2 separate regions of the Homo sapiens genome follow, and region 2 is linked to region 1. The links come from fine-mapping of genetic effects on gene expression. A gene starts in region 1. The other region holds a variant in brackets. All regions are shown on one strand. Distances are from middle to middle.

Region 1 (5,217 bases):
GCAAGACAAAGCAGCCCACCCCTGGTCCCCATCATCCCCTTGGAATCACCTTGGAAAACCCTGGATCATTTTGAAAGATGCTCATGGACGCCATCTCATTGGGGCTCATCACAGTATCAAGGTAGAAGAGGAAGCTGAGACCAGTAAGATCACATGGTGGCTGAAGGTGGTGTGGCTAGTCAGGGACAGGTCCCTTGGCCACAGAGCCACTGGCGGGTGGCAATGTGCCACGACCATGGGGTCTGGCAGAGATGGCAGTGTCCCTGGCCACAGTGTCCAGCAGCAGCATGGCAGCCGCAGCAGGGCTCTGTGGTCAGACAGGGGTGCTGCTGTGACCTGAGACTGTGGGCTCCTTTGAAGGTGGTGACCCTGCCCCTCGTGTGGAGCCCAGCTGTGCTGTGGGGCTGAGCTGTGGTGTCCTCCTCTTTCAGGATGTGGCTCTGTTTTCACTGCCTACCAGCTCTCCAGCCTTCCCCTTGGTTCTTGGAGACCTGATTTGCTTCCAATCAACCCCTTCCTACTCAGTGGCCAGCCTATTTCTCCATTTGCAACCAGCAACCCTGGCTATAACTTCTGGGGAAACTTCTGGCTATAACTTCTGAGGCACGGAGCGGGGCAGGAGCTTGCCCAGGGTCACAGCGCTCTCGGCCAGTCTGGGAGTGGCAGCCAGGCCACCTCCTCCTCCTGCAGGAAGCTTCCTCCACCTTTCAGCAGCCCTGGAGCCGCATGGAGCAGGGAAGGGAGTTGTCTACCCTCCGGCATCCTGTGTGTTCCAGGCTGTGTGGGAGCAGGTGCAGCTGCCAGGCATGGCAGGAGCCTGGGCCCGGGCCAGCACTCAGGAATGCAGCAGGGCCCTGCCTCTCCCTGTAGGGATAAGCAAGTGCCAGGCGCCCAGGGCAGCGGATGTGTCTGTGGCTACAGCCCCAACGGCCCCCGCCTCCGCACCGGCTGTCCTGGGCCAGCCCCTTGGGGGCCTGGGATGTGTGGGGAGCATGAATGGGGCTCTGTGACCCAGCAACTGTTCTGCGGAAGGCGGCTGGTGGCTGCACAGGTGACTGCGGGGGTGGGTGGGGGATGCAAAATTCTGCTTCCTGGGCCTGGTGTCCCCCGCCTTGCATGAGGCCCTGACAAGACATCACCGAAGCACCAAAGCCAACCCTTGTGGCCCACCGGAGACCTGTCTCTTGGATCACAGGGGCAGTGGGGAGGGGCGCCCAGGGCTCCCGATGCCTCTGAGCCCTGCTCTGAGGTCAGCCGATGTGGCTCAGTCCTGGCTGTGAGGCCTCACGCTGCCCTGATTCCATTTGCTCCTCAGTGCGAGGCAGACAGAGCCCAGCCTAGGGTCTGGATGGGATGAAATGAAGACGTCTCCTCCCTAACGGGACACTGTCTACCCCTTCCTTCTTCTCCCCCGAGAACCGTCAGCCCCGTGAGGATGGGGTCTAGGGTAGGGCATGTGGACGGAGCTTTGCTGTTTGTCCAGGTGCTTATCTTCTAGGGTGCCATCGCCCCTCCCCACTGCTGTTCCCGTATCTGCTGGGTGTCCCCAACCCCAGGGTGGTGGAGGCCGTCTCTCGGATGGGGCTGACACCCAAGGCACGGACCTGCCAGGTCCCCCAAAGCACATGGCCTCTCTGCAGAAGAACCTGGATGTGACATCTAATGCCCAGGCCAGAGCTTGGGGACAGCTGGACTGGAGCCACAGGGTCAAGGAGGGGGAGTCCAGAAGCGCAAAGTCCACCCAGCTGGGAGGGCTGCTGGCAGGTCCTTTACAAAGCAGGCAGCTCCTCTGCCCATCGGAGCCGGCTGGCCTAACCAGGGCCTGCTCTTGCCTGGGATGGGGGCAGAAGAGGTGGAGACCTGGGGCCCTGAGGCGGCACTGTGGGTCCTGGACCCGCCCACCTGCACTGGGGTCCCTGCAGGCTTTTAATGGGAACAGAAATGGAGGAAGAGACAGAGGCTGCCAGGGGCTCCCCGACCCCTACTGCCTGCCTGGGGAGGGGTCACCTCAGTGTGGGGGAAGCCTGGGGATGTGAGAGCATCCTAGGCCTGGGCTGCCTGTGGCCAGTCTGTTGTCCGGGTGTCTAGTGACCCCTGGGGTAGGGGCAGATGCCAGTCTGGGAAGCCGGATTGTTTGAAGACCAACTTTAAAGTTGGGAGCAGTGCCCAGAGCGGGGCCGATGTCTGCTAGGTGGTTGTCTCTGCTTTTTGAAAAAGAAGTCCCCGCCCGACCCCCGCCCCGCCAGGCGCTGGTCTGAGCGTCTGAGCCCAGATGGTGCGCTTGCTCCAGAGGGCGGGCGGCTCCAGTGGCCGCCGCGGGACGGTGGGGCCAGAGGGGCCCGTGGGGGTGGGGGAGCCGCCCGCAGGAGAAGGAGCCCCGCCCGCGCCGGCCCTGGAGTCGCCGGTGTCGCCGCCCTGCCCGCGGGCCCGCCCTCCTGGCCCAGCCCAGGGCCCTGCGAGCTATTTTGAAAGTGACCCTGGGCTGGGGCGCCGGGGCGAGCGCGGCGGCGCGGAACCATGACAGAAGATGACCGAGGCGGCGCTGGTGGAGGGCCAGGTCAAGCTGCGGGACGGCAAGAAGGTCGGGGCGCGTCGGGGGCGCGGGGGGGGGGGGCGCGGGCGCGGGCGGCGGCTCACGCTCCCCCCTGTCCCCGCAGTGGAAGAGTAGGTGGCTGGTGCTGCGGAAGCCGTCGCCCGTGGCAGGTGAGCGGGGCGGGCGGGGGACGGGGGGCGCGGGGGTAGCGACACGGGTTACCGAGGCCCGGGGCAGTAATGCCAGCTTGCCCAAAATCGCCGCCGCTGTCACCCCGCCGGGAAACCCGAGAGCCCCGTGCGGACCCGGACCCCCCGGCGCCCCTGGGAGCGCAGGTGGGGGCCCTGGACGGAAGAACCCTCTTTCCAGCAGGGCAGACTGAGGCCCGAGGGGCTGCCTGGTGGCCCTGTAGGCGGAGGGGACGCAGGCCCTGAGCCCCCCAGCAGAGCAGCAAGGGGCCCCCCAGAAGCAAAGCCCCACATACCTGAGGGTTGAGCTGTGCTTGTGGAAACGCTCAGAGCAGGGCCCCCGAACCCAGCCTCCAGGGGTGCTGCGTGGGTTAGCGCTGACCCTGGACCCCTCCCAGGCAGACGAGAGGCTGGGCTGCGGTAGGGCAGGGCAGAGTGACTGCCACATTGCTGGGGGAACAGTCCTCTGGGAGGAGGCAGGGGTCCCCCCCCAGTCCCCGCCCTGAGCCAGCACCCCAGCTTGGGGAGGGTCAGCATGGAGCCCCCAGGTCTGGCAGCCCAGGCCGCCTGCAGCGCTGGGCCTGTAGGGAGGGCTGAGCCGGGCCTGCAGCTGCTCCAGAGGACAGGTGCGGCAGAGCCGGCCAGGCCCGGGTCTGGGTGGGATGCTCGGCCTGTGTGCATGGGGGGCTGTACGCCAGGGGGCTGCCAGAGCACCCTCCAGGACGGGTGTCTGTGACTCCCAGGGAGGGTGTGGGGCAGGGATCCCTCCTGCGTCCCCTCTGCAGGGCCTCAGGTGGTCCTGGAGGAAAGCACTTCCTGCCTGCCTCCGCCTCCCCTTGCAGGGCCTGGACTGCACGCTGGTCACTTCTCCACTCAGCCCTCCGTGCCCAGACCTCCTGCCTGGAGCTGTGGGGGCACCGACAGAGCCTGGGAGGGCGTCTTTGTCCTCCGGGGCTGCAGGGGACCTGGTATAGGAAGGGATGGGGTCTGGGCAGAGTGAGAGGCCCTGCCAGGCTGGGGCGGATGACAGGCTTTAGTCAGCTGTGGCTGGGTCGGGGCCGTGGTGGGGCAGGTGATGCTTGGTGGATGGTGCTGGGCTGGAGCCGGTGCAGACCCTCCAGAGAGGCCGCATCCCAGGAAGGCACCCGGGACAGCAGCCCCCAAAGAGGAGTGTCGGGGGAGAAGTCTTTGTCCCTGTTGGAGGGATTTTCTTTCTGCATCAGACAGTCCCAGGAGGCAGGGCCTGCCAGCCTCAAGAGGGTGTGCTCCCCCGGCCGGTGAGTGCCTGAGTGGAGTGACAGGAGTTTGCAATGGGTCCCCCAGGTGGGACAATCTGTGAGTCTGTAGGTGAACATGGTGGCTCCCGAGCGTCTGCTGGGTTATCCCGTATCCTGCGCAGTTGAGATCTGCAGCCTTCTGGGGCTGGCGTGGGAGGTGATGTGGGGTAGTAGAAGGTGCCATGCCCCCTCTGGGTGGATGTTCATTCCAAGCCTTGAGGCCAGGTGTCCCTAGCACCCACTGACTCACTGGCCTGGGACCCATTGCTTTGGACACCTGCTTTCTGTGTTGGTCACTCCAGCAGCCCAGGGTTGAAACTGACACCCTGTGGGGTTGCCCAGAGGTCGGTCAGATGAGGGGATGGGACAGAGCGGAGTTCTCACGCCCACCTCCCCACCCTGACCAGGCCAGCCTGGCACCTCCTCTCCGCTCAGAGGCCCTGATGCCTCTTCCCCTGGCCCCTCATAAGCCTCCCTAGATGCTGCCCCCTTTGCCTTCACCCAGCTGCCTTCCCGCTCAGCGCTGGAGACCACCTCCCTTGTGGATGGGCCCGGCGTGGAGGGAGCAGGCCCCAGCCCTGGAGGAGCAGACAGCACAGACCCTGCGCTCCTGGTGTGAGGGAGAGAGGAAGGGTCCCGTCTGCTTCCTTGTAAGACAGGCAGGGTTCTTTTTGTTACCAGTGGTGATTTCCTTCTGGGAAGGGCCCCGATGTGCACCTTTTCCACTGGCACCTTTCTCCTCCTTGCGTTTTTCTCAATCGTGAGCACGTCTTTCTGTTATGACAAGGTTTAGCGAATGAAAGGGAAACCCTTTTATCAAAGGGCTGCTCAGCCACAGCGCCTGGCATGGCCAGTGGACGTCGGGCCGTCTGCCTCGGTGTGGGACTGCAGGGTGCCCTGCAGTGGGACCACGTTCCTCAATGTCTCCACCGCGTCCTCACTGCGGAATGCGTGTCTGCGTCCCCTCTCTGGGCAGGGCCCCGGGGGAGGAGGGTGGTCTGTGTCCAGTTGTGGCCCAGGACTCACTGCTGGTGGCCCTGCATGCCAGCGGCGCCTGGCCCAGCCCCTCTCTTCTTCCTCCCAGGTGCGGGGGCTGGGGGTGGTGAGGAAAGTGTTCTTGACATCCTGTGGAGAGTGTGGCCCCAGGCCAGACACTTGAGGGGGCCTGCTTCCCACAGGGGCTGCCCCTGGGGGCTTCATCCAGCTCAGAAAAGCCACC
Region 2 (5,209 bases), 25 kb after region 1:
AGTTTGCTGCGGTTTCCTGTGTTCCTCCTCTTCAGGGTCCCCAGCCCGCCCTCGGGCCAGACTGACCTGTCTCTGTCCTTCCTCTGCAGGGGCTGGCGTCTTCTTCCTGTCCTCGGCCGAGGGGGAGCAGATCAGCTTCCTGTTCGACTGCATCGTCCGAGGCATCTCCCCCACCAAGGGCCCCTTTGGGCTGCGGCCGGTTCTACCAGGTGCGTGTGGGAGCCTGGCCGGCCGGGGAGGGTGCGCTCGGCAGGCTGTGCGACGTCCCGGGGCGGGGGGCCACAGTGATTTGTCAGCCCCAGTTAGATGGCCAGCCTCCCCACCCCCAGCTAAGGAACCAGAACCTTTCCAGGCCAGGATTGCAGCCTGGGCTTCTGCAAGCCCTGCTGAGGGATTCAGAGCAGCGGGGGCTGGGCTCGTACCTGCAGGTGCTCTCCCTCGGGGGTCCGAGCTGTTGGAACGCTTGGCCCTAGAGCTTTCTGGCTGGGACAGTCAGCCACAGCTGCCACTGTGCAGTAAGAGACCCTCTGACCCACCACCACCATCTTCCACGCCCAGGAGCAGGGAAGGCCTTGCCCGAGCTCGGTGGCCCGGGGGCAGCTGGTCTGACTCTGCAGCTGGGGTCGGGACTGGCTCTGCCTGAGCCCGGTGTTTAGGCCCAAGGCCACCTCGGGAGGTCCCCTGGCTGTGGGGTCTCAGGACACGTTGGGCTGAGGGGGTCTCGTCTTGTCTCACCCACACTTCCTTGGCTGTGGCTGCGGCACTCTCTGCAGGAGTCCTTGGCCAGGGATGTTGCTGGACCCCAGAGGGGCTCTGGTGCCTGGGCACGGTGGGGCTCCCCAGGTCGGGGCGGGTGCTGGGCCAGGTGCCTCCATGGGCTCTCTCAAATGCTCCTCTTGCTCCACGAGGGCAGCGCTTGACCCAACGTCCAAGTGAGGCCAAGGCCTAGGCCATGTGGCGGGTGAGCAGCAAGCTCACATGTGGCGCCTCCTGGCACTGGCACCCCCGCCGTGGTGTGGCGGGGAAGGGTGACTGGGAGGGCAGAGGCGAGCAGCATGTGGGGTGGGACCTGGGCCTCCCTTCTCCTGGCCACAGCCCCCAATGCCCCCTGCCCACACCAGCAAAGTCCCGTTGGGGGCAGCCCTGGGAGTGGGGAGGTGGCACCTATGGCCAGCGCCCTCCCCGCTGCCCTGCCATGCTGGATGGTGCAGCTGCACCCCTGTAGGTGTCTTCCTGCCTAGTGGATGCACCCCTGCAGGTGTCTTCCTGCCTAGTGGATGCACCCCTGCAGGTGTCTTCCTGCCTAGCGGCTGCAGGCAGGTGTGGATGGTGTGGTCAGCGTGGATGATGTGGTCGGTGTGTTTGGCTGTGCAAGGCGAGGGTGTGCAGAGTGCAGGGCGGGGACAGGGCCGGGCAGGGGCAGCAGGAGGCTGAGCAGGGCTCCCTGCTCTCTCCTGCTCCCCTCAGGCAGTTCCCGGGGAGCAGAGGGAAGCAGGGAAGCAGTACTGGGCAGAGGATGCCAGGGAGGGTTTGCCTGGGACAGCCACTAGATGGGACAGGCTCCACCGCAGGCAGCACGTGGGCCAGCCCCAGGCGGGGCCATTGCTGACAGCTGGAGGGGGTTGGGCTGACCAGAAGTCCCAGACCCCACTCCACAGGACATCTTTGTCAGAGTCAGCTGGGAGCTCTCAGAAAGCTCTGTTGTCAGGGCCTCGGCCTGCAGCTGTGCCCCCAAGCTGTGCCTCTGCAGGTGTGTGGGGGCCTCAGGCCACCCGGAGGTGGGTTGAGCTGGGACACTATGCTGGGCAGCACCCCACCAGAGAAGCCGTGGGCCCAGCCCCCGCAGGCTGGACTTACTGGAGGGTCTGGGCTGATGGGTTCGTCTGCCTGTGCTGGCAGCACACTGGAGCCCCGTGATCACAGGACTCCCACAATAGAGCCCTGCGGGCGGCATCCTCAAGCTCTGGGCTTTCTGCCGTCCTCCTGTGCTGAGCCCGCTGTGACCCACTGGAGGGGCCAAGAGATGCAGGAAGTCCAGCCCCTTGGTCTTCCGCATGTGGACACCGAGTCCCAGAGGCAGCCAGACCCACCAGGAGCAGGAGGGAAGGGCTCAGAGGTCTGGGGTCCACCATGCTCCGAGTATGGCGTGCATGTTACCTTCTTGGCCTGGCCTCCACGGGGGTGCACCGTTGCTGCACCCCATTTTGCAGACGAGGGTGAGAGGCTCAGGGGGCGTGTGGTGGAGCTGGGAGTCGATCCGTGTCTTGCTGGCCCACCAGTTACTGGACGGGAAATGGTGGGAGGTTGTGTCCTGCATCCTGACCCTGGTGTCACCGAGGGGCCACTCTCCGTCCCACCTGTGGGGCATTGGCTTTGAGGGTGGCCCTGGTCGGAATGTCCCAGGGCTGAGGGGCAGTTGTGCTGTCCTGTCACTGTGCTTGTCTTCAGCCTGGACCCTCAGTGCACCAAGGAGCCAGGACTGGTGCCTGCTGTCCTGCCCACGTGGCTGAATGTGTCTGTGAAAGTGCCAGGAGCTGCTAAGCCGTGTGGCCTGTGGGCTCCATGGCCACCAGCAGGCCGTGTCGGGAGGGACTGATGCCTGAGCTGGCACAGCCTTGGCTGCCATCGCCTTCCACCCTCCCAGGCACAGGCAGGGAGGGGACAGGAGAGAGGCTTGTGCCACCCCCATCCCTGTCCC[C/T]GGCAATGCTACAGACAGGGCCACAGGGTCTTGGGCTGGCAGGGCCCCAGGCTGACCGGGGCAGTGCCTTGGGGTGGCCATACCCAGAGGTGGGGGAGGCTCCTCCAGGCCCTTCTTGTGTTCCTGGGCCCGGTGCTGTGAGCTCTCACCTGCCCGTGGGGAGGGCCCTGTTCTGAGGTCCTGATGGGGTCTCCTGTAGTGAGCAAGGGCCCCAGCTGGGCACCTGTGTGGGCTGAAGGCATCAGCAGAGGACAGTGTCCTATCAGGGACAGGGCCTCTTCAGCCTAGATGTGAACCTGGACAGGGACACCATTGCTTTCTCTGTTTGTTTCTCCGGAGCGCTGACCATGGGGTCGGGACGTCTGGCTCCAGCCTCCGCCAGGCTGGGTTCTGTCCGCTGAGGCTCTGATCTAGGTGTCCCAGGCTGGGGACTGTACCTTCTGGTCCTCTGTGCGCTGCAGAATTTGGTGTAAACTTTTCATGCTGCCACTGCTCCTGGACTTTGGGGAGAGCAGGTCCTTGGACCTGTTTCGGCTCAGTCCTGCAGGTGCCCCCAAGGTGGGTGTCAGGAGGTGTGTTCTGGAGGCCCAGAGGAGGCCACTTGGAGCAGGACGGGGTCGGTTTGCTCTTGCGGGTGTGGCTGTGGCTTCCCTGCCAGGGAAACTCTTTGGGATGGCTGTGGCCGTGGGTGCTGTGGATGTGGAAGGGGCAGGGTCTTGAGCCCTGCTGTTTGGAGCAAGGTAGCCACTTGGCCCAGTGTTCACATCACTTAGTGCCTGGGACATCCCAGCATGGGCGGGGGCTTGGGGACCAGGGCAGTGATGCTGAGGCTCGCAGCAGCGGTGCTGAGGGGCCAGTGAGAGGTCCCACCCTGCCTGGGCAGGAAGGGGAGGTTTCCTGCCACTCAGTCGCAGAGGACACATGGACGATGAATAGAGAAGGCGAGGCTGGTGCTCCCTGGATGCAGCCCTGAGGGGAGGGGCTAGGTGGGGCCGAGGGTCCGCAGACCACCATGCTCTGAGCCTTGGGCACAGTATGAGTCTCCATCCGAGACCCCAGGGAACGGTGGGGACACTGCAAGGTGGGCGGGCATTTCCCCAGGTGGAGGGGAGCCTGTGAGAAATGGGCACCGTGAATGAGGGGCAGGCAGCCCCTCTTGCAGCGAGGCCGGCCCTGGGGATGGGGGAGGGGCTGGTCATTTTTTGGAACAGAAAATTGAAAAACTCGGTGGTGAGGAAGATGAGGAAGGAGGGGTCTGGCCGGCGTGGGGTCCTGGTGAGTGGGCAGGTGGCAGGGCCATCCACGGGCACAGGGACCCAGCTGGGCGCATGGTGGCCTGGATAGGGGTGGTGTGGGTGTCTGCGTTTGAGGGCCAGCCTCTGGGATGAGGCATCGGGAGGAGCGGGGACTCCCAGGGGACTGCCACTCCACAGAGGGGGATAACCACTGAGTCAGGCTGGGCCTGGTGCCTGCGGGCGAGGGTGGGCGGTGGTGGCCACCTCCTCCACCGAGTCTTCTCTCTGCCACAGACCCAAGTCCCCCGGGACCCTCGACTGTGGAGGAGCGTGTGGCCCAGGAAGCCCTGGAAACCCTACAGCTGGAGAAGCGGCTGAGCCTCCTCTCACATGCGGGCAGGCCGGGCAGTGGAGGTAGGGCCGGGGGCTGACCTGGGCTGTGGGACCTCGGCTAAGCCTCCAGCAGGAGAGCTCAGGAGGCATCCATGCATGTGTGGGGGCTGCAGGCTCCCTCTGCTCATTCATTCATTCCTTCTGTCTCCTGCTCATTCATTCTTCCCCCAACTCCCCGCCCCGCCCGCTACTCATTCATCCTTCCTTCCCCACCACCCTGCTCATTCCTTCCTTCTCCTCCTGCTCATTCATTCCTTCCTTCTTCCTCCTACTCATTAATTCCTTCCTCCCCCCATTCCTTTCTTCACCCCCTCATTCATTCCTTTCTTCACCCCCATTCATTCCTTTTCTCCCTGCTCATTCATTCCTTCCTTCCCCACCCTGCTCATTCATTTCTTCCTCCGCCCCCCCCACTCATTCCTTCCCCCCTCATTCATTCCTGTCTTCACCCCCTCATTCATTCCTTCCTTTTCTCCCTGCTCATTCATTCCTTCCTTCCCCACCTTGCTCATTCATTTCTTCCTCCGCCCCCCCGGCTCATTCTTGCCTTACCTCCATTCATTCCTTCCTTTTCCCCACACTCATTCATTCCTTCCTTCCCCCCACCCCCTGCTCATTCAGTCCTTCTTTCACCCCCCCCACCGCCCCGCTCATTCATTCCTTCATTTCTCTCCTGCTCATTCATTCCTTTCTTCTCCCTCTGCTCATTCATTCCTTCCTTTTCCCCCTGCTCATTCTTTCCTTCACCCCCCCGCTCATTCGTTCCTTCCTTCTCCCCCTGCTCATTCGTTTTTTCCTTCTCTCTCTGCTCATTCCTTCATTTCTTCTCTCCCTGCTCGTTCATTCCTTCCCTCTCCGCCTGCTCGTTCATTTCCCTCCTGCT

Which allele goes with the higher level. Alleles are on the strand shown, and positions count from the first base shown. SD is a standard deviation of normalised expression in the study named.
For the expression in whole blood of the gene that starts at base 2,458 in region 1, T is the high allele of the variant in region 2 and C is the other (small effect, 0.20 SD a copy in GTEx).

The links.
Region 2: its variant is fine-mapped to the expression of DOK7 in whole blood (TOPMed, PIP above 0.99). The same link has a PIP of 0.9 or more in blood mononuclear cells.

What each region holds. Positions count from the first base shown.
Region 1 is chr4:3,460,849-3,466,065 of GRCh38, forward strand. DOK7 (docking protein 7) reads left to right here and starts at 2,458. Exons shown (of 7, transcript NM_173660.5): 1 at 2,458-2,581; 2 at 2,658-2,703. The coding sequence starts at 2,528. RefSeq lists enhancers at 1,236-2,083, 5,001-5,217.
Region 2 is chr4:3,485,450-3,490,658 of GRCh38, forward strand. DOK7 (docking protein 7) reads left to right here. Exons shown (of 7, transcript NM_173660.5): 5 at 90-209; 6 at 4,228-4,347. Among named protein-coding and RNA genes, the nearest start is that of DOK7, 25 kb to the left of the region's middle. RefSeq lists enhancers at 1-138, 140-1,106 and a silencer at 4,263-4,372. The variant C/T (reference allele first, on the strand shown) is at 2,699.